2 separate regions of the Homo sapiens genome follow, and region 2 is linked to region 1. Evidence: fine-mapped expression QTL. A gene starts in region 1. The other region holds a variant in brackets. All regions are shown on one strand. Distances are between the middles of the regions.

The links.
Region 2: its variant is fine-mapped to the expression of SERINC2 in monocytes after Pam3CSK4 (Quach 2016, PIP 0.95).

The regions. Positions count from the first base shown.
Region 1 is chr1:31,407,736-31,418,053 of GRCh38, reverse strand. It overlaps SERINC2 (serine incorporator 2), which reads right to left and starts at 4,841. Exons shown (of 10, transcript NM_178865.5): 1 at 4,750-4,841. The coding sequence starts at 4,788. RefSeq lists enhancers at 2,774-3,322, 4,593-5,093 and silencers at 4,817-4,876, 4,957-5,026.
Region 2 is chr1:31,456,148-31,466,465 of GRCh38, reverse strand. The region is part of intron 1 of LOC124903900 (a long non-coding RNA gene); the gene reads left to right. Among named protein-coding and RNA genes, the nearest start is that of SERINC2, 48 kb to the right of the region's middle. The variant G/A (reference allele first, on the strand shown) is at 4,834.

The DNA.
Region 1 (10,318 bases):
AACCCTATCTCTACTAAAAATACAAAAAAATTAGCTGGGCATGGTGGTGTGTGCCTATAGTCCCAGCTACGCGGGAGGCTGAGGCAAGAGAATTGCTTGAACCCGGGAGGTGGAAGTTGCAATGAGCCGAGATTGTGCCATTGCACTCCAGCCTGGGCAACAGAGCAGGACTCTGTCTCAAAAAAAAAAAAAAAAAAAAAAGAATGAAATTTTGACACATGCTATAACATGGATGAACCCTCAGGGCATTATGCTAAGTGAAATAAGCCAGACACCAAAGAACAAATATTGTATGACTCCACTTAGATGGAGAGAGTAGCCAAACTCATAGAGAAAAGCAGTGAATTGGTGGTTACGAGGGGCTGGGGAGTTACTGTTTAGTGGGAGTTTCAGTCTGGGAAGATGAAAAAGTTCTGGAGAAGGATGGTGGTGATGGTTGCATAACAGTGTCAATGTACTTAATGCTACACTTAAAAATTGTTAAAATGGTACATTTTATGTTATGCATCTTTTACCTCAATTTTTTTAAAAGGGAGGGGGCAGGGAGTTTTCAAAGAAGAGCAGGAAGAGGCGAGAAGGGTATTCCCAGCAAAGAGAATGACACATGCAGAGCTACAGGGACACTGTATTTTCAGGGCAGCTGAAAGGGTGAGAAAAGCTACAGAGGTCACGGAAGTGGTGGTCAATGTCCCTGTATGCCATGCCAGGGAGTCTGGACTTCACCCTGAAAGCAATGGGGAATGATTGCGAAAGAAGAGGAATGACAGCAGATTTGCATTTTAGAAATATCACTTTGATCACAAAAAGACAGGTCATGGGGTAGTGTGTGGTATCTTTGGGGGAAGGGAGGAGAGTCAGGGGCTGTTGTCAGTAATCCAGATGAGGGCTGACAGTAAGAAGATGTTCTGGAGTTACCGTGTGCCTTAGTTGGCACTACTCCTTCTGACAATGCCATTCGTTTGGGATTAATTTTTATTAGGGTTGTATTTATTAGATCTCCATTTTAATATACATGTCTTCTAAAATAAATTACAGGCTGGGTGTGGTGGCTCATGCCTGTAATCCCAGCACTTTGGGAGGCCGAGGCCAGTGGATAACTTGAGATCAGGAGTTCGAGACCAGCCTGGCCAACATGGTGAAACCCCGTCTCTATTAAAAACACAAAAATTAGCCAGGCATGGTGGCGCACGCCTGTAATCCCAGCTACTCGGGAGGCTGAGGCAGGAGAATCACTTGAACCTGGAGGCAGAGGTTGCAGTGAGCCAGAATGGTGCCACTGCACTCCAGTCTGGACAACAGAGCAAGACTTCATCTCAAAAAAATAAAGTAAAATAAAATAAAATGAAATAACATACAAACTCCTTGAAGACTAAAATAAAAGGTTAAAAGAGTAAATTTTTTAACATGTATTTCGTCACAGTTTAAAAAATGCAAAACTGGCCCAGGCAAGCATGCACCTTGCCGCCTTCATGAACAACTCCGTAACTGGCTGAGCCGCCCCAGGGCTAGTCAAAACACAGCAGAGAAGAGGTCAGCCGGAAATGTCCCAAGGTGCACTTACTTCCCCCATGCAGTGCCAAGAATGCAGGTCCTAATGCTGGCTCTGCCACAGCTTGTAATCTGACCTCAGGCAAGTCTCTCCTCCCCTCCATGGGACTCAGTTTCCTCATCTGTAAAATGATCTCCTGGGGTAGGAGAGTACAGGGGCTCCGAGCCCAGGCTCTATAGTTAGGCAGCCCTGGGTCTCACTGGCTTCAGCACTTCCTTGCATGTAGTCTTGAGTCATGTACTACTGTGGGGTGTTTATGGACCGGCCACTGCACACCAGCTTGGTGCTAAATATGCAGCTGTGCTAACCTCAGTCCCATTTAATCCTCACAACAGGCTAAGGGGCAGACACCATTGTTTTCTCCACTTTACAGACAAGGGGATGGGCAAAGTGACTGCCCACAGTCACAGAGATGCGAAGAGGCAAAGCTAGGATCCGAGTCCAGTGGTCTGACCCAAAGGCCTTTCACACTCCCTAGGATGTGCAAGACCCTCCTGAAATCTTTGCAGACAGCCAAGTCATCATGTGCCGGCGGCTTGCCTGGTGGCCCCATCCCCTGTGGACCCATCTTACCTCCCCATCCAAAGCAGGACCCACCTTCAGCCCAGTTCACCTTCAGCCCAGTTCCAATGCTGAGAAGCACAATCAGCAGATGAGTCACACCTGGGAGGATACAAAAATCTTCCCCACTGACCCATGCATGCAAAAAAATCCCTCCTGAAGTTGCCCAGAAACCCCACATAGAACTTCACTCCTGTGCAGCAACTCTTCACTGCAACAGGATGGTACTGGTGTCCAGTAGTGCCCAACTACACCACTTAATGTTGTGTGGCTGTGGAGAAGTCACCTTCACTCTCTGAGCCAGTTTCCTCATCTGTGAAATGGGAACAATATTAACTGCCCCAGTGGGGTCTTTGTGAGGATTAAATGGAAGGAGATATATATATACACACACATACACATACTGCTCACTACTGTATGGGGCCTAGGCCACTCCTGGACAGCTCCACGCTGCGAGTGTTGGGATAGTTATCTGTAAAATGGGCTAACGATGTCATAGGGTAGAGGAGGTGGGGAGAGCCAATGAGATGGCATGGTGAGGGGCTCGGAACAGTACCTGGCTCAGTAAATGTCAGAGGCCAGAACCTCAGTAAATGTCGGAGGCCAGAACCCCAAGGGGATGGCACTGAAGGGAGGGCCGGGTCCCTTGCTGATATTACTCACTAAGTTATCTCCCAATTCTTCCCTGGACCAGCCCTGTGCCTCAGGCAGCCAGGATGTGGGGAAGGGAGGGAAGGTGTGGGCAGAAGCCTGGACCAGGAATCAGATGTTGATCCTAACTATGCAGTTCTTCATCCTTTCCCTGTGCAACCTTAGGAAAGTCAGCTATCTTCTCCGGGCGGGTGGCAGTCTTCTCATCTGTAAACAGATGGTTTGAGCAGTCCTATCTGCTCTCAGCATTGTAGAATGCTGTAACTCAGAGACCAGCACTTGGCTTTGCATTGTCTCCAAATGGAATTCTCCACCCACCTTTCCTTGATGTTAGCAATAATTCCCACAAGGAGCACTCACGATATGCCAGGAACTGTGCCTCATCTCCCAACAGCATTGTGAGAAAGGCCCTGTTACTGTCAACTGCCAGATGGGGTGACCAAGGCACACAGGGCTGGCAGGCTGCCCCTCAACATCTCCACCCCCAGGCCAGCCCAGCAGGGCCTGTGCCTCACCAGGTGCAACCGATGGAAATCAGGTCCACTGTGGAAGCTCTGCCTCCCTCACCAGGAAGCAAACCCTTGTTGGCAGAGACCTGGCCCAAACCTTGAATTCTTTGGGCTGGGAGGGATTTCAGGCACCAGCTTGATTCCTCCTCCTGCACACGCACATGCACACGCACACACACACACGAAAAATGGAGGCCTAATGAGGCGAGAGGCTCTCTTGCCTCTCTGTGCTGTCTATGCTGATCTCATTCTCAGAAAAAGGCTGTAAAGTAAATCTCTAGACCCTCAGCTCTCCCCTACACCCCCTCCTCTCTCTCTCTCTCTCTCTCACACACACACACACACACACACACACACACACAACCCGTCAGGGACAAAGGAAAGCGAGTCCCGAGATTCAGCAGCCGCTGCAGCCCCTTCTCCCTCTCAGGGCCTCTTTGTGTGGGGCCAGAGGGGGAGGGGGCTGCCTGAATGAACCTCAGATTTAATGAGGGGAAGAGGAAAGGAGAGGGGGGCTGGGGAAAGGGAAGGGAGAACGGGCCTCCCAGCCGGGGTCTTGCTGGAGCCCCTCCCCTCTGCGGCTGCAGCTACAGAACAGAGGTTGGCCTCCCCACAGGTCCCGAACCCGCGACCGGGCACTCCCCGCGCACACCCGAACCTCCCTCGATTCCTGCTCTCCCAACCCAGAGTTCCGCCCGGTGGTCCGTGACGACCCGCACCCGCCTCACTCGAGGGCAGCTAAGAAAGTCCGGGGCTCCCTCCGCTCCCATCCCAGTCTCCGCGCTGGGGCCCAGATGATCCGGGGCGAGCTGGGGAAGTGCCTGAGAGGCAGCGCGAGCCAGACTGAGGACGGTAAAGGGACCGCAGAGAGACTGAGGGACGGACGGGCGGACGGGCAGACGGACAGAAGACAGCAGACGGACAAAGACAGTCGGACGAACGACGGACACAGACAGGAACCAGACAAATACGAACGGACAGGCGGAGCCCGAGCGACAGGAACAGGCGGACTGGCAGGCGGCCAGAGGGGTAGGGCAGGGCACTCGCCAGGAGGGACGGGGCCCGGGCGACCTACACAGAGAACCAGGGCGTCCGGGACGGGGACAGAGGCCACCCCGAGGACCGCCCCAAGTGGGGCGACGAGGGCCCACAGAGCTGCCCCGACCCCGGGCTCCAGGCTTAGTCTCTCCAGGTCCCAGGAGGGCGCCCGCCGAGGGCACTCCCCTCCTGCCCGCGGAAACCCGAGCCGGGACCGCAGCTGCCCGGCGCCTGCCGGCCAGGACTGAGCAGGGGGACGGGGGCAGCGGGATCCGGGTGCCGAGTGAAGGTCCAGGAGGGCGAGCAGGCGGGGCACCGGCCCAGAAAGACAAGTTTGCAGGAAGGAAAAAGAAGAAACTACTCGGAGCAGAACAGAAGAAAGTGAGGGCCCGCAGCAGGAACGGGCGGCGCGCGCGGGCGGGCGCCGGGGTCGGGACTCACGCAGCTGAGCAGGGAGCAGGCTCCCAGGCAGGCCCCCATGGCGGCGGCTCCCGGCTTCGGGCGCCCGGCGCCGGGCGCGGGGCGCGGACCTCGGGATCCGGGTGCCGGGCCTGGCCCCTCCCCGGCCCCGGCCCCGCCCCGGCCCCGCCCCACCTACCGAAGCCGCTCGACGCTTTCCGGCGGCGCTCGGGGCCTCCCCAGACTCACCTGGGGCAGGTGCGCCAGGAGGGACCCTAGGGAAGGGGCCGGTCGGGGATTCCCGCGGCCACGCGAGCGGCGCAACCTGACCCAATCGTGGCCCGGGCTCGCATCCTGCTCCAAAGTGAGCGTTCGGAAATCGACCTCGGTTTGAGCCCGTGTGACCCCAGGACACTGTCACCCTTGGGAACAGAAGCCAAGAGGTGGTCACCGCTGACTCCTCAGTGCTTGGCGCAGGGCCTCTGCTCAATACGTAGATGCTGAGGTTGAATGCTGAATGACTGGATAAAGAAACTTCGGCAAGTCACTGCACCTCTATGAGCCTCAGTTTCCCGGTCTGTAAAGTGAGGATACATACCTCACAGGGTGGTTACAACACATGGTAGGTGCTTGACAAATGTAAGCCCCCATCGTCACTGTTTTCTTCTTCCTTTTTAAGAGACAGGGTCTTGCTCTGTCACCCAGGCTGGAGTGCAGTGGTGCAAACATAGCTCACTGCAGCCTCGACCTCCTGGGCTCAAGTGATCCTCCTGCTTCAGGCTCCTGAGTAGCTGGGACTACAGGTGCATGCCACCATGCCCACCTACTGCTTCTTCTAAGACCCCAGCCTCTCACTCTAAACCCATCCTCCCTTCTCTCCATCTGTTCTTCAAACTCCACTGACTCCCAACAGCCTGCTGGGAGCTACACACTCCCTACAGCCACCCCTGCTTGGTGGCTTATCACTCCCTAGGGATGCCCAAACTGGTCCCTAGCTAAGGAGGTCAGAAGGTGGGGAGGGGCGGCCACATTCCTGACAGATGGCTTTCCAGGGGTAGGTGTGAGAGACCCAGAAGTAGGGCTCTGTAATTAGTCTCCCTTCACCCTTAGCCCTGTCCTCAGCCACCTCTGGACAAGATAATGTTAGGGAAAGAAGTCTCTGTGCCTCGAAGCTGGCCCCAGGGCCAAAGAGCTGGTTGACTGCATCCTTGGCTGATTCACTGGGCGCCAGGCTTAGCCATTAATTGCACCAGGACTGTTCCACAAACACACCCTATACTTTTCCTCCTCCGCACTTTTGCCCACACAATGCCCTCCTCTTTTTTTTTTTTTTTTTTTTTTTTTTTGAGACAGGGTCTCACTCTGTCACCCAGGCTGGAACACAGTGGCCCAATCATGGCTCACTGCAGCTTCAACCTCCTGGACCCAAGTGATCCTCCCACCTCAGCCTCCCAAGTAGCTGTGACCACCAGTGTGTACTACCACACCCAGCTAATTTTTTAAAAATTTTGTGTAGAGATGAGGTCTCCTTATGTTGTCCAGGCTAGTCTCGAACTCCTGGGCTTAAGCAATCCTCCTGCCTTGGCCTCCCAAAGTGCTGGTATTACAGATGTGAGGCACTGCACCTGGCAGATGCCCTCCTCTTAAAGGTCCTTCTCCTTATCCCTCTTTCTCCCCTTTGAAGCTTGCTCACATGCCATACCTCTCAGTGAAGAGAGCCACCACCCTCACCCCCAACCCACTACCTGGTTCCATTAGGAATGAACATCCTCCTGATTCCCCCAAGCCTCCAAACAATATGGGCCTCCCTTATGGCCTCACAAACAACCCGAGCACATGCCCAACTTTCCCCCGTGGTACCATTTGAGCCCCACAACAGCCCTGAGAAGTCGATTAATTCCCCACCCACTCGTTTACAGATGAGGAAACCGAGAAACAAAGAAGTAGTGACACGCGAAATGTAAATCAAGCGTCGAATAAACGTTGACTGTGATCACTGTGGTTGTTGTTACTATTGCTGAAGGCCACACAGCTCAGAAGAAACAGAGCTGAAAGGCAACCTGGCCTGGCTTTCACCCTGATGTCCTACTGCTTCCCTTGAAAAAGTAGAGGTGACAATATCTAGTCTTCCTATTTTTCTGTCCAGCAATATTTCAGTCCTTCCCTAACCCGAGGCCTTTAGGGGACTGTGAGCCACCCAAGAACGGTCTGCTCTCTGGCCACCCCCTCTCCTACCCAGAGCACAGTACAGGGCCTGGCACACAGTCAAGCAGTGAATGCTTACTGGATGAATGTCTGACCTTTTACCATAAGTCCACTTTCCTCCTTCTTCTGTGACTGACAGTCTGATCCAAAAACATACCCTACACAGTCATCTTCTGCACGGAAATCCTTTAGACTGAAATGCCACCAAGCAGTCTCAAGTGAGCCCTCCTCACATGCTCCCGTCCCAGGGTCAGCTCCCTTGGACACTTCTGCTCTAAGAGCTGAATTTTTCACCCCCAACCCCTCCCTATCCATGACCTAGAACAGTAGAAAGCACCCAAGACCAAGAGGATCAACCCCTGGGATTCTTGTTCTGCCACAGATGACCATGCCCCATGCCATCCTTGGGGGGCCACTTCACCCCACAAGGGGTGTCCGTCCATCCCCTTCCCGGAAATAGGTAGGGTTATTCTGTTTAACCTCACAGAGCATGTGTGAGCATCTGCAAAGACACTCTCAGAAATAAGCAGTTATCTGCAAGGAACGAGGGATTAAGATGACTGTATGTGTAAAGGGATAGCCACTCTGACTTCAGGCTAAAATTTTCCAGAGCAAGGTAATATGCTGCCACTGTCCTGGCCTCCTGCCTGCCCAAGACCAAGGCCGGCTGGGCTCTCACACGCCCAGCATGGAAGGCATAACTCACTGTGTGGCTGGGTCCGGGTGACTCCTCCTCTCTCAGCCTCATGCTTCTCATCTGTAAAATAAAGATAAGTTTTTTTACCCCAGCTATCTGAGGGGACTACTGAGGAGATGAAGTGAGGACATGGATAAAGAGCTTCATTTCTTGGTGTCCTGGCCAGCCCATCAGCCTTTACTCCCAGATTTGAACCTCCTGCATGGGGCCAGAGTAGCTCTGTCTCTTGCACCCCCAAAAGCACAGTCACAGTCAGCAGCTATGTGATACTGGCAAGTCACCCAACCACTCTGAGCCTCACTGGAGGGTTGGAATTCAGGATTCAGCTTCTCCACCCAATGCTATGTAAACCATGTCCCTTGAAATAAACATGTAGGGGTCATTTGGTCCATTGCCCTGTGCCCATCACCCAGCCCAGACAGATGCTCAACTCCAGTTCCCAAAGGAAGCAGACTCTGACTTCTTGGACCACCCACCCCAAGGTTCTCTAATCTGATCTCACTGGGCCTGAGTTTTCAAATCTGCAACATAGGAACGAACTCCTGCCCCCGCCTCAGTGCCCCCAATCCATTCTCTCCCCATCCCCTCTTACCATCCTCCCGTCCATGAGGACTCAGATGTGTGCCGGCTTTGAGCCCTCCTATCCCTTGGGCTTCGCTGTCTGTACTGGCCTCTATTTCCTGCTTCTGACCCATTTACAGAGCAGGGCCATCCCTTATGAATATGCATATAAGATAATGAGAGCTTGGGATTGGGGGAGCATCTGGGGAGAGGTATTCACATACGCACCATCCACTCTGCTCTCCCCATAAACACCCCCCAACCAAGGCTGTCCTTCCTCACAAAGCGTGCATGGGATTTCAGAGCAAAGGCTAAAGTAACAATAATCATATTCATAGCAAGCATTTTTAAGAGCTTACAACATGCCAGGCACTCTGCTGAGATTATCTCCTTTAAGATGAATTTAAGGTAGGAACTATTGCCCCCATTTAGCAAATAAGGAAATTGATGCTCCAAGAAGTTAGGTAACTTGTACATAAATCATACGGGGAACATGCACAGTGATCATGTGCAGAGCCAGGGTGGAACCCAGGTTTTCTCAGGAGAATGCAATTCCAAAGCTGGTGCTCTAAACCCCTGCGCCCAGATGTTCAGGGCCAAGCCAGGAGCCCTGAGCAGTCATGGGGCCACATCTGGATCTCACATGTCAGCAGATGAGCCCACAGTGGTATTAGGTGATTTTGTGAAAGGACCCAGGTCCTGGAAGGGACTCTATCTGGAAAGTATGGAGACAGGCAGACACGATGCGTGTTCATATGTGTGCAGGCACACAGTGATGCAAGCTTGAGCATGCACACACACACAGGGTGTTCTGTGTGCATGGACGTAACTGTGTGGGGTGGAGGTACCCCTGTGGCTGCCCAGTGTATGTGCCTCTGTGCTGCTCTGGTGACTTTTTTCCAATCAACACTTAGCCACAGGGGGCCAGGAGCTGGGAATGCAGTGTGGATAGGGCAGACACAGTCCCAGCCTGCATGGAGTGGATGGTCTGTGGGATTTGCTTCCCATAACAGTAACACTCTGGAAGGAATCCGTTTCCTTTGTAGGAAGTGACTAGGGGTTGAGAGAGAAGATGGGTAAGAGTGGAAAAGGTAGGACATCTGAGGTAGGTAGCTCAAGGGAGCCTCTGGCACTTGCCAGAAATGTATGGAGGAGACAGCCAGGACCTGGCACCGGCTCCACGACAGTCACAGGTCTGAGGATTCCCAAAGGTCTCCAGATGCTTTCCTTACAGATGTCCAGGGTCTTCTGTGAGTGTATATGTGGGCAGTTTGTGTGTGTTGGGGAGGGGGGGGTGTTTAGGTATATGTGCACAGATGAGCGTGTGTGGTTATGTGAATATGTGCATGGAATGTGCATGTATAAATGTGGGGACATGGGTAAGTCATATATGGTGTGTACGCAGGTGGGGTTTACATGTAGAGGTGGGGGTATGCTTGTGTGTGTGGCAGGGCCTGTTACTGCAAAGGAGAGAAGAGAGTGCCATTTGGCCCAGGCCTCACATTCAGAAGTCTCAAAAATGCATCCAAAAATGAGATGGAATGAAGGGAGGGAGGGAGGGATGGATGGCTAGGTAGATGGATAGGCAGAGGGCTGTCTGTGCAGAGAGATGGACAGAGGGTTGGACAGAGGAATGGATATGTGATAAAGCAGATACTGCAAAATGTTCATTGTAGTCCCCAGGTGCTGAGTATGTGGGTGCTCACTGTACCATTCTTTCAACCCTTCTGGATGCTTGATACTTTTCATAATACAACGAGTACACAAAGTGGGCTGGATGTCTAGCCCCAGAGAATTATGGATGAGATGGGAAGAACAGAATGCTCTTCATGCCATTTGAAACTTACATCCCATCACTGGACCACACAGCAATGTGAAATCACATTTTTTATAATTCTTGTGACGATCTTGTGAGTCTCTCAGTTGCACTGCATTGGATGTGTGTGGGTGCATGTGTGTGTTAAAAAACATTAATTTGTTAAATAAAAACATACCACAGTTGTGAACATCCTATTTAGGACTTTCTTCATTTTTAAATTAGCAGGAGCCTTAAAAGACAGAAGTGGTCTGGCTCAGCCGGGCGCGGTGGCTCGCGCCTGTAATCCCAACACTTTGGGAGGCCAAGGCGGGCGGATCACCTGAGGTCGG
Region 2 (10,318 bases), 48 kb before region 1:
TATTACAGTTGCTAAAGAGGTAAGAATTGAGGCTACAGTCTCTTTTCATTGGCCAAACCACCCTTCTAGCCATTTTAAAACAGGGTTATTAATTCCAGAATTTTTAGCTAGTTCTTCAGGTAAAGCAGTAAGGCCTTGTAGGGCCATCATTATGCTGCCATTGGGAGCAGTGTTGTTTGGGATGAAGGTACAACATTGGATTTTAATCATAACACAAATACCACCTTTTTCAACTAATATCATATCCAAAGCCATTCTGTTTTCCCAGGCCATTTGGCTAGTGGACCCTAACTGTTCCACTCTTCCATTGACAGCATCTTTAGTGTAATTAATAAACCGTTGTTGATTGTAAAAAATATAGTTTTTCCAATCTTTGTTTTTATTAACTGTTATCCATGGGAGGATAGATTCAAACCCTGCAGCTATTTGGAATCCCTAGCTTTATATTCATCTGGTACACCCTGTGGAATGCTAATTGCATCTAAATAGACGTGGGGGTTGAAAGACCAGTAAGGGGCTTCTCTTGTTTTACGATGTCATGTTTTTTCTTTTTCTGGTTGATGAAATGTCAGGGTAAAAGGGACAGCCAATTGAACTAGAGCACAAGTACCACTCCAATTATTTGGCAGAGTGTCCAGTAAAGGTCCTCCACAATACCACCAGACATCTGCTCCGGGATGAATAAGGACGGACTGATGGGTCAGCTCTTGGCAGTGCCTGACCTCACTGCATCCTGTTAAGTCTCCAAGGAACACCAAATTTTCCCCTTGTCGTTGGAGACATGAGGTAAAGTTGCTCTTGGAAGATGGAGGCTGGATGGCCTGCGGGGGCTGACCCGCAGGATGCTGCACTTCAGGAAATAGCAGAGAGACAGTTTGGCACAGTTCATTATCCCAGGCTGTAGGATTTTGAAAAACAGCTACCATGCAGTCCATGTCTTGTCGATTAGAGGGCCATCTGAGTGGAAAGGGGACAATCTGGGCCTCTGGCCTACCATGTGTAGGAGCGTAACAATCGCTTTTATTTAAAGTGCAGATGGAATATTTAATCCATTCTAGCCAGGCATTTACATCCTGATACCCTGTCTCAATTGCTATGGTTTGCCTTAGGTTTTCTACTTTTACTACGGAGATTTTGGTTTTGTCATTGTGTCTGGGAGGAGTGATTGATAGAGGTTGAAGAAGCAATAAAGCATATTTCAAAAATTCCCTTACTATCTTTCCTGAAATGTCAGCTCCCATACCATAAATATGACTTAATGAAGGGGAAGAGTTTTCAGATGTTGCAATAGTAATAGTAAGCTGTATAGGATTACACTGGTTATATTGACAGCTAGAAGGAGTAATTCTTTTGGTGAAATGAATATATGGTTTTAAGGACTGACAAAGACCCGTGGAAGCAGTCTATCTTAGACCTTTAGTGTTCCATAGGACATTAGACCAAGCAGAACATAGAGATTCTGTTTTAGAGGGACAAGAGTCTGATTCCCACCAATTAATACAACTAGTATTCTCTGGATTACTAGTATCCTTGCAGGAACTCAATATGTCTTCCCAATCTGAGGAAGTCCAAGAGGGACAGAGATATTTTTCCGAAGTAGTAAACTGTCTTTGGTTATGCAAATCTCCACAGGGTATAACTAAACAGGCATCAGAAGTAATAACTTGAGGTGAGTTAGATCTAGTTACGTTAATAATAAGATGGGGAGTAGTTAAAGGGAAGAAAAGAAAAATAAAAGATAGATAGATTAAGCTTTTCTTAACTTTAATTTGGTAGGGCTTGATCCTGGAACAATGACCCACGATTCCGAAGGTGATGACGTTTTCTTGACTTGGGTGTGATGTGTTCATCCTTTTTCTGCTGTGCCAATGGCAGTCTCGGTGGTTAGCAGCACGAGGTAGGGTCCTTCCCAGGCTGGCTCGAGTTTTGCTTCTTTCCGTCCTTTGATGGTCCCCAGGCTGGTGCTGGTGTACTGGAAATTCTAGGGGTGGTGCCTGTGCTAGAAGACCTCTGGTTTTAAGTGAAAAAAAGGTAGAGGAGAGACCAAGTATATAATTTCTGAGAAACTGATCCTTTGATTCAAATGTGGGGGCATGAGCAGTGGAATATAAGTAAGGCAACCCATATAACATTTCATAAGGGGACAGGCCAACATCTTTCCAAGGGGAGGTTCTAATCCTTAATAAAACAATAGGAAGGCATTTAGCCTATGGCAACCGGGTCTCTAGGACTAATTTAGTTAGGTGGCTTTTAAGGGTTTGGTTCATCCTTTCTACTCTCCCTGAGGAGGATGGGTGCCAAGGAATGTGATATTCCCACTTTATGTCTAGTACTTGAGCCAACTTTTTAATGATATGTGCAGTAAAATGGGTTCCATTGTCTGAATCAATGTTTTCTATTAGTCCGAACCTGGGTGTAATATGTTCAATTATTGCTTTAACTACATTACTAGCGGTTGCACTTGAAAAAGGGATAGCCTCTACCCAATGGGTGAAATGATCTACTATTACCAATAAATACTTTAGCTGACCAGGTGGGGGCATTTCAGCGTAATCAACTTGGACACTTTGAAATGGTCTTAGTCCTGGATTTCTTCCTCCAAGTGGTAATTTTCTTAGGGCTTGTTTATTTGTTTTCTTACAAATTAGACAACTGTCTTTAACTTGTTTTGCTAAAGTATAAATCTCAATATACCCATAAACCCTGAGAACTGCATCACACATAACTTGGGGCTCCAGTGAGTTCTTTGATGTAGTTAAGATAAAACCTCCCTCAAAAGAGGCTTAGATAATATTTCTTTCTGGTCTGGGAGTATCTATTTCCCTTCTGAATTCCTTTGAGCTCCTATTTTTACTAATTTTTCCTTCTCAGTATGACAGAAAATAGGAACTACAGTGGGAGAAGGAAGACAAGGAGTTAAGTGAAAGATGGTGTCTCAGAGGAAACAGCAGCTTGCTTGGCTCTTTGATCCACAAGAGTATTTCCTCAACTTTCAAAATAAAAGTTGTGTTGGTGTCCTGGAACATGGACAATGTCTATTTCCTCTGGTAACTGAAGATTATTCAGGACACAATTAATGTTTCATAAGCAAGATCTTGACCTTTACTATTAATAAGGCCCCGTTCGGCCCAAATTTTTCCAAATGTGTGAGACACCCCAAAAGCATACTTAGAGTCAGTATAGATGGTTCCTACCTGGTTCTATAAGTATTTTAGGGCCTGGCTAAGTGCAAATAGCTCACAGGCTTGGGGAGACCAACTATTGGGTTATCTTCCTGATTCAACTTCTTTGAGAGTTTCCCCATCGATTACTGCATACCCATTATGTCGTTTTCCCTCAATTACCTGGGAGGAACCATCTGTAAATAAAGCTGCCCTGTCTTAAAGGGGGTTTCTACTAAATCTGGGCTGACTTTCGTATGGTAGTCAATTAAATCTAGACATAGGTGTTCCCTTTTTAGCAGTGGGTTCCCTGTCAAGAAACCCACTGGGTTAAGTGAATTGTCTGTAGTTAAGGTTAAATCATCTTTTTCTAATAGGATAGCTTCATATTTTAAAATTCTGGAGTCAGTGAGCCATCTTCCTGCCTTTTGGCTTAGGATAGCTTGACTTGTTGAGGTGTACTCACTGTCAGATATCCTCCAAAAGTTAATTTCCTGCTTTCTTCAACCAATATCACCGTGGCCACAATGGATTGAATACGCTGAGGCCATCTGCAGGCGACTGGATCTAGAACTTTTGACAGGAAGGCCACTGGCTGTCGGCAGCCCCCATGTTCTTGGGTAAGCACTCCTAGAGCCACTCCATTATCTACGTTAACAAAAAGATGAAATGGTTTTTCTAGAGAGGGTAGGGCCAGGACAGGAGCAGTTATGAGTCTTTCCTTTTACTCCCCAACCTGATCAACCTCTTCAGAAGTCCATATGAAGAGATCAGGTTCTCCTTTAGTTAGCTTCTCATATGGAAGTTTACTTTTTAATGCATATGAGTCAATCCATAAATGGCAGTATCCAACTAACCCTAAAAATTTCCTGAGTTCTTGCTTGGTTTGAGGCAAGGGCAAAGACACAATTCCTTTGACCCATTTGGGTCCTATTCTTCCTTTGTCTGCATTTATTAAATGGCCTAAGTATTTAACTTCAGGTTCTACATATTGAAGCTTTCTCTTTGAGACCCATACCCTTCAAACTGTAAGTGGTTAAGAACGTGTGTAGAAAACCCAGCTACCTTCTCTATGTCTTCTCCAGATATAAGAATATCATCCACATATTGGAGCAAACGTAGCTGCTTTGGGACAACAACTTTTTCTAATACTTGCTCTAAGATTTGACCAAAAAGATTGAGTGAATCTGTAAATCCTTGGGGTAAAACTGTCCATCTATACTGTTGTTTCCATCTTGAATGGGGACCTTCCCATTCAAAAGTAAATATATCCTGGCTGTCTTCAGCCAAGGGACCTGCCCAGAATGCATCCTTTAAGTCTATTACTGTGAACCACTGATGACTGTGTGAAATTTTACTAAGAATGGTGTAAGGGTTGGGTACAACAGAATGAGTGGTCTGGACTATTTGATTGATAGCTGTAAGGTCCTGCACTAGTTGGTATGACCCATCTGATTTTTTGACTGGTAAAATTGGAGTGTTGTATGAGGACATACAAGGTTCAAGTAGTCCATCTTTAATAAGACTCTCAATTACAGGCTTTAACCCTACCCTTCTTCTAAAGGGATAGGGTATTGCTTTCTTCTCACTACCTCCCCTGGAGTCCTTAACCTGATATGTATTGGAGGAATTCGTAGCTTTCCTCAGTTTCCTTCCCTTGGCCAGACATCGA[G/A]ATGAATGGACTTCTCATCTGCTGTGGTAAGCAAATTTAAGGAAGTTAGAACACCCTTTGGGCCAACTTGCAGACCTATACCTAGTTTTAACATTGAATCTCTCCCTAACAGATTGGTTCCTGCTTCAGGAATTAACAAAAGTTGAATACAAGTTGACTGATCTTGGTATTTTGCTTCTGTATTTTCTAAAACTTTCTCCTTAAATTCTTCTCCTTTTACCCCAGAAACTAGCAATTCCTCTGTAGAACAAGTTAAATCAGCTGGGGGAAAACAAACAGACAAGCAAGCAGCTCCTGAGTCAATTAAAAAGGTGATTAATTCATGTTTGGGTCTCACCTCTAAATGTATCAAGGGTTCCTGGTGGGACTCAAAATAGAAAAGACAGAGCCCCTGACCCCCCTATTCCTCTTCAAAGGTAGTCATGAGTGGAAGAGCTTCTTCTACTTTTTCTAATTCCGGACATTACCTATTAAAATGGTCTGGTCTTCCACATTTGTAACATCTGTCTTGTCCTTCCTCTCTCCCAAGCCCAGGGCCCCTTTGTCTTTCCTCCTTACCTTCACATCCACAGCCCTTACAGCACTTACTTTGACCTTCTCCCTTAACGTACTGATCTTGCCTTCTTTCTCTTTGCATTCCTGAGTTCCCTGACTTTCTTCTTTCACCTTCTCTAGAAAACTTTGCAGGTGTGGGTCTAAACTTAGCCCCTGGTATCATTTGTCCTGGTGAACTCTGTCAAAAGATTTTTGCTTTCTGTCTCTGCCTTTCTTCATCTCTACTTACATATACTTTTTGGGCTTCTCTCAAAAGCTCTTCTATTGACCGATTCTTCCAATTTTCCAGTTTTTGCAATTTTCTTGCAATATCTGGCCAACTGTTAATAATAAAGTGCAACTTTAACAATCCTAGCCCAAAGGGGCTTTCTGGGTCTAAACCAGCATATTTTCTCATCTGTTCCCTCACTCTGTCTAGAAACTTCATAGGCCCTTCATCTTTTTCTTGCTGTATATCAAAATCCTTAGAGAGATTTTGAGGTCGGGACACTGATTCCCAAATTCCTCTAACTATCATTTCCCTTAAATCTCTCATGTTATCCCTGTGGGCTGCAATATTGTTATCCCACTCCAGGTCTTGGCTGGAAATTTTGGTCTGCTGCCAGAACATTTTGGCCCAGAGGATGGTCACACTCCCAGACCACCACAGCAGCTCTGCGGATCATGTTCTGCTCTTCCCCTGAAAAGAGGATACCTAGGATGGACATTAATTCAGCCCAGGTATATAACTGCGGGCCTAAAAACTGATCAATTTGATCTGCCACTCCATAAGGATCATCTAATAATGGCTTGAGTTCTTTTTTTTTAAGACTTCGGACTTCGGAACCAGTTAAGGGAGCATTTACAAGGCAAATTGCCCCCCCTTGTGGTACCTCCCTTAAAAGAAAGAACTTTGAAGATGAATCCTTAGAAGTGGGGAGGGGGAAAGGAAGACTCTGAATATCCTTTCTACATTGTTGTATTTCCCGTTGAAGTCCTTTCTTTAAAGAAGGATATTCAGACTGACAAAACTTGGGTCCCTGGGACAATAACTTCCAGGAGTCCGGGTTGTATGGGGGAGGAATAACCTGAGTATGAGGATCCAGAGGAGAGTCTGGAACTGGGTCTGGGATGGGGTTTGGGGCGGCGGCAATTGCTTGAGGAGGGAGTGGTGGGTTTTTGAGAAGTGGGGGATGGTGGTCTAGAGGGTCCCACTTACTCGTGGATGTCTTAGAAGTAGAAACTTTGTTCTCAGATGAGACAGCCTCTGAGTCCTTTTTACCTTCTAGTTCCTTCCCATCTATTCTTAGCGGGTAGAGAAGAACGGCCCCTGCCGCCAGCACAGAGCATAGTCTATTTCTTCTTGTGAGAGAGGACTCTTGTCATTAACATACATTATTAGGAGTTGACAAACCCAGTCCCCATCCAACCCAAACTTTGGCCAGAAAACTGTGGGCTTGAGGATTGGCTCTTTAGTCCAAATAAAGCAGCAATACTTTATCATTTGCTGCTTTCCCTTGAGTTTAGTCCTCTCATTGTCTTTCCAATACTTTAACATAAGCCCTAAAGGACTATCGGTGGGGGGGATTTGACCATCTGCATTCTTTCCCTTCCCTGTTTTACTAGAAATATTCCCTATACTGAGTACCAGTTAGACTCAACCTCTCGACCCAGAGTTTTCTTGCTTATCCCGTTTTCCAGAGGCTTGCTTAAAACAACCTCACGTATGGCCGGGCGCAGTGGCTCACACCTGTAATCCCAGCACTTTGGGAGACCAAGTCGGGTGGACCACGAGGTCCGGAGATCGAGACCATCCTGGCTAACATGGTGAAACCCCATCTCTACTAAAAATACAAAAAATTAGCCAGGAATGGTGGCGGGCACCTGTAATCCCAGCTACTTGGGAGGCTGAGGCAGGAGAATGGCATGAACCCGGGAGGCAGAGCTTGCAGTGAGTGGAGATCGCACCACTGCACTCTAGCCTGGGTGACAGAACAAGACTCCATCTCAAAAAACAACAACAACAGCAACAAAATAACAAACAAACAAACAAACAAACAACCTCACGTGCTTGAGGTTTTTCACCCTTCTTTTCCCAGGGAGGATTCTAACTATTCCCCCTCACCTTCTGGAGGTCTCTTTCACTCCTTTCCTTTTGTTTTGCCCTCTCTTACCTCTAAGCCATATGAAATGATTACAGAATTTGCAGAGAGGACCCACTCACACCATACTCACGCATGCACACTCACACTCAACCTCCAGAATTTTGACCATCAAGGAAATACTTTGTCACCCCCTTGTGATGTTTCTTACCTTGGTATGTGCACAGAATTACCTGGTCACAGCAGTGTTGCAAGCCCTTCTTTCCCCGTGTTGCTAAGAGCCCGGGTTTATTCATTGCAAAGGATGGGTTTTGATCTCCAGCCCTTAAGGCCACCACAACAAGGCAGTGGGGTATGCCTCCCTGAGGGGGTGACCAAAGACCCCTTCTGAAAGGAGAATGGGAATCCCAGAGGAGCCTCCAGAACTGTTAGAAGTAAATGCTTATTCCTCAGTGCCACAAGGAAAAACTAGCATTCAGACAAAAAGTTTTCTCAGCAAGGCAATTTTACTTTCTGCAGAAAGGGTGCTACTTATCAGCAATCTTGCCATGAGAGCACACTGAACAAACAAATCAGGAATATTTATCCCTTACACATTGGATCCTTACTGCTGTGTCCTATCTCCATTGCTTGGAGTCTAAGTCTAAGCTAAATCCGATTGGCTAACAGTCACAGTCTAAGCTAAACCCGATTGGCTAACAACTTAAAACTTTCCTAAATAGGTAAAGGCAATGAAGAACAAAAGGAAAAGAGGAAGTTGCTTGCAAAAGGACTTAGAGAAGTAATAACATTTCCAAATAAGAAAGGGGCATAGGCTGTGAACTGGGACATGCCAATATCTTGGTTAAAGTACAAGGACATAGGATGTACTTATTTCCTTATATCTAACATCTACATAGGATAGGGCTTAATAAAGGGTTATTAGCAAAAAGCAAGAAGGCTTTGAAGGAAGTTAGTCTTTAAAAGAAACTATTATTTCTAACATTTATTATTTATTCTTTAACAAGAAGGGAAACTTTGAAGGAAGAGGAACTTTTTACTTTCCACATTTGCTAAAAGTTAGCAGTATAACATGTATTATCCTAACTTCTAATCTTGTGGCCTTAGGCAGCCTAGTCCACCGACATGAAGGAAGTTTGCTTTGGAGAAAACTAGTTATCATCTCTGACATTTAAAAAAGGAGAATTTATATAAAAAGAATCTTATATGGTAAATTCTTGTCCTAAAATAAATTAACTGGTTGTTTAAAGAAAGGGATGTTTGCAACAAGTCAGAAAGTTGAGGCATGTTGAAGATTATCTGTGAAAGTTGTGAAAAATGTTATAAAGGGGAATTTATGCAAGAAATGTTGTATAATTTAAAAGTAATTAGGCCTCCTGAATGTAAAACTATTGAAGAAACAGTTTATATGCAAGGTGTGTAAGGAAAGTAAAATATACTTTTGGTAAAAGGAGTATAAGAAAGTATAATAATGTGGATTTTTACCTACATTAAAAGGTTAAAAAAATGTGTTTTGAAGGTTTAAGCAAGCTTTGAAACGTTAATTGTAAAGGAAATTCTGTGTGTAAACATATTGGCTAAAGTTAAGGGGGTATCATCCAGTTTTTCTGCGAACTGGACATTAAAAAAAAGCACAACAGGTTTTTCTTAAAGCACTAAACTGCTCTTTAACAAAAATCATAAAGGGTTAAAAAGAGTAAAAATTTTACCTTATGGTCAGACATTAATATTGGATAAATAATGTCTACAAGATTTTATTAAAATTGAGCTTAACATTAATAGCACACTAATATAAAGGTAAAATTTAGCTTATCTGGTATAAAATCATACAGGAAGCATTGTCAAATATAAAGTGGTGTTTGGCTTTCTTTGGTTTAAAAACGAACAAAAATGGTGCTAAAGAAAATTCAGAAGGAAAATGGATATTGCTAGACCAGAGAGAAATGTTATCCAAACCCCTTATGAGGGAAATCTTGTCCCAACTACATCAAGAGACCCACTGGGGGCCCCAAGCCATGTGTAACACAGTCCTCAGAGTTTATAAGTGCATAGAAATGTGTACCCCGGCCAAACAGGTTACAGACAATTGCTTAGTAAAAGATTACCACTTGGGGGAAGGAGTCCAGGCTTAAGCCCATTCCAAAGTATCCAAATCGATTACACAGAGAAGCCTCCAACTGGTCGTCTAAAGTATTTATTAGTAATAGTAGATCACCTTACTCATTGGGTAGAAGCTATTCCCTTTTCAAGTACAAATGCTAATAATATAATCAAGGCATTAGTTAAAAATATTATACCCAGGTTTAGATTAATAGAAAACAGTGATTCAGATAATAGGACTCATTTCACAGCACATGTCACTAAGAAATTAGCACAGATACTGGATATAACATGGGGATATCATACTCTCTGGCATCCACCTTCATCAGGGAAAGTAGGAAGGCATATTACCCTGTGAAGAGTCCGAACTGCTCCCCCAAAAGACAGGCCTGTCCCCTTATGAGATGCTCTATGGATTGCCTTATCTACATTCTACTACTGATCTCTCTACATTTAAAACAAAAGAACAATTTCTCAGAAATTATATACTTGGTTTATCGTCTACTTTCCCTTCCCTCAGAACTAAAGGTCTTTTAGCACAGGTGCCACCCCTAGAGTTTCCAGCACACCAACATCAGCCTGGGGACCACGTCCCTGTCAAAAGTTAGAGAAAAGGAAAAATTAGAACCAGCCTGGGAAGGATCTTACCTAGCGCTCCTAACTACTGAAACTGCAGTCCGGACAGCAGAAAAAGGGTGGACCCCTCACACTCGAGTCAAGAAAGCGCCGCCCCCTCCACGGTCATGGAC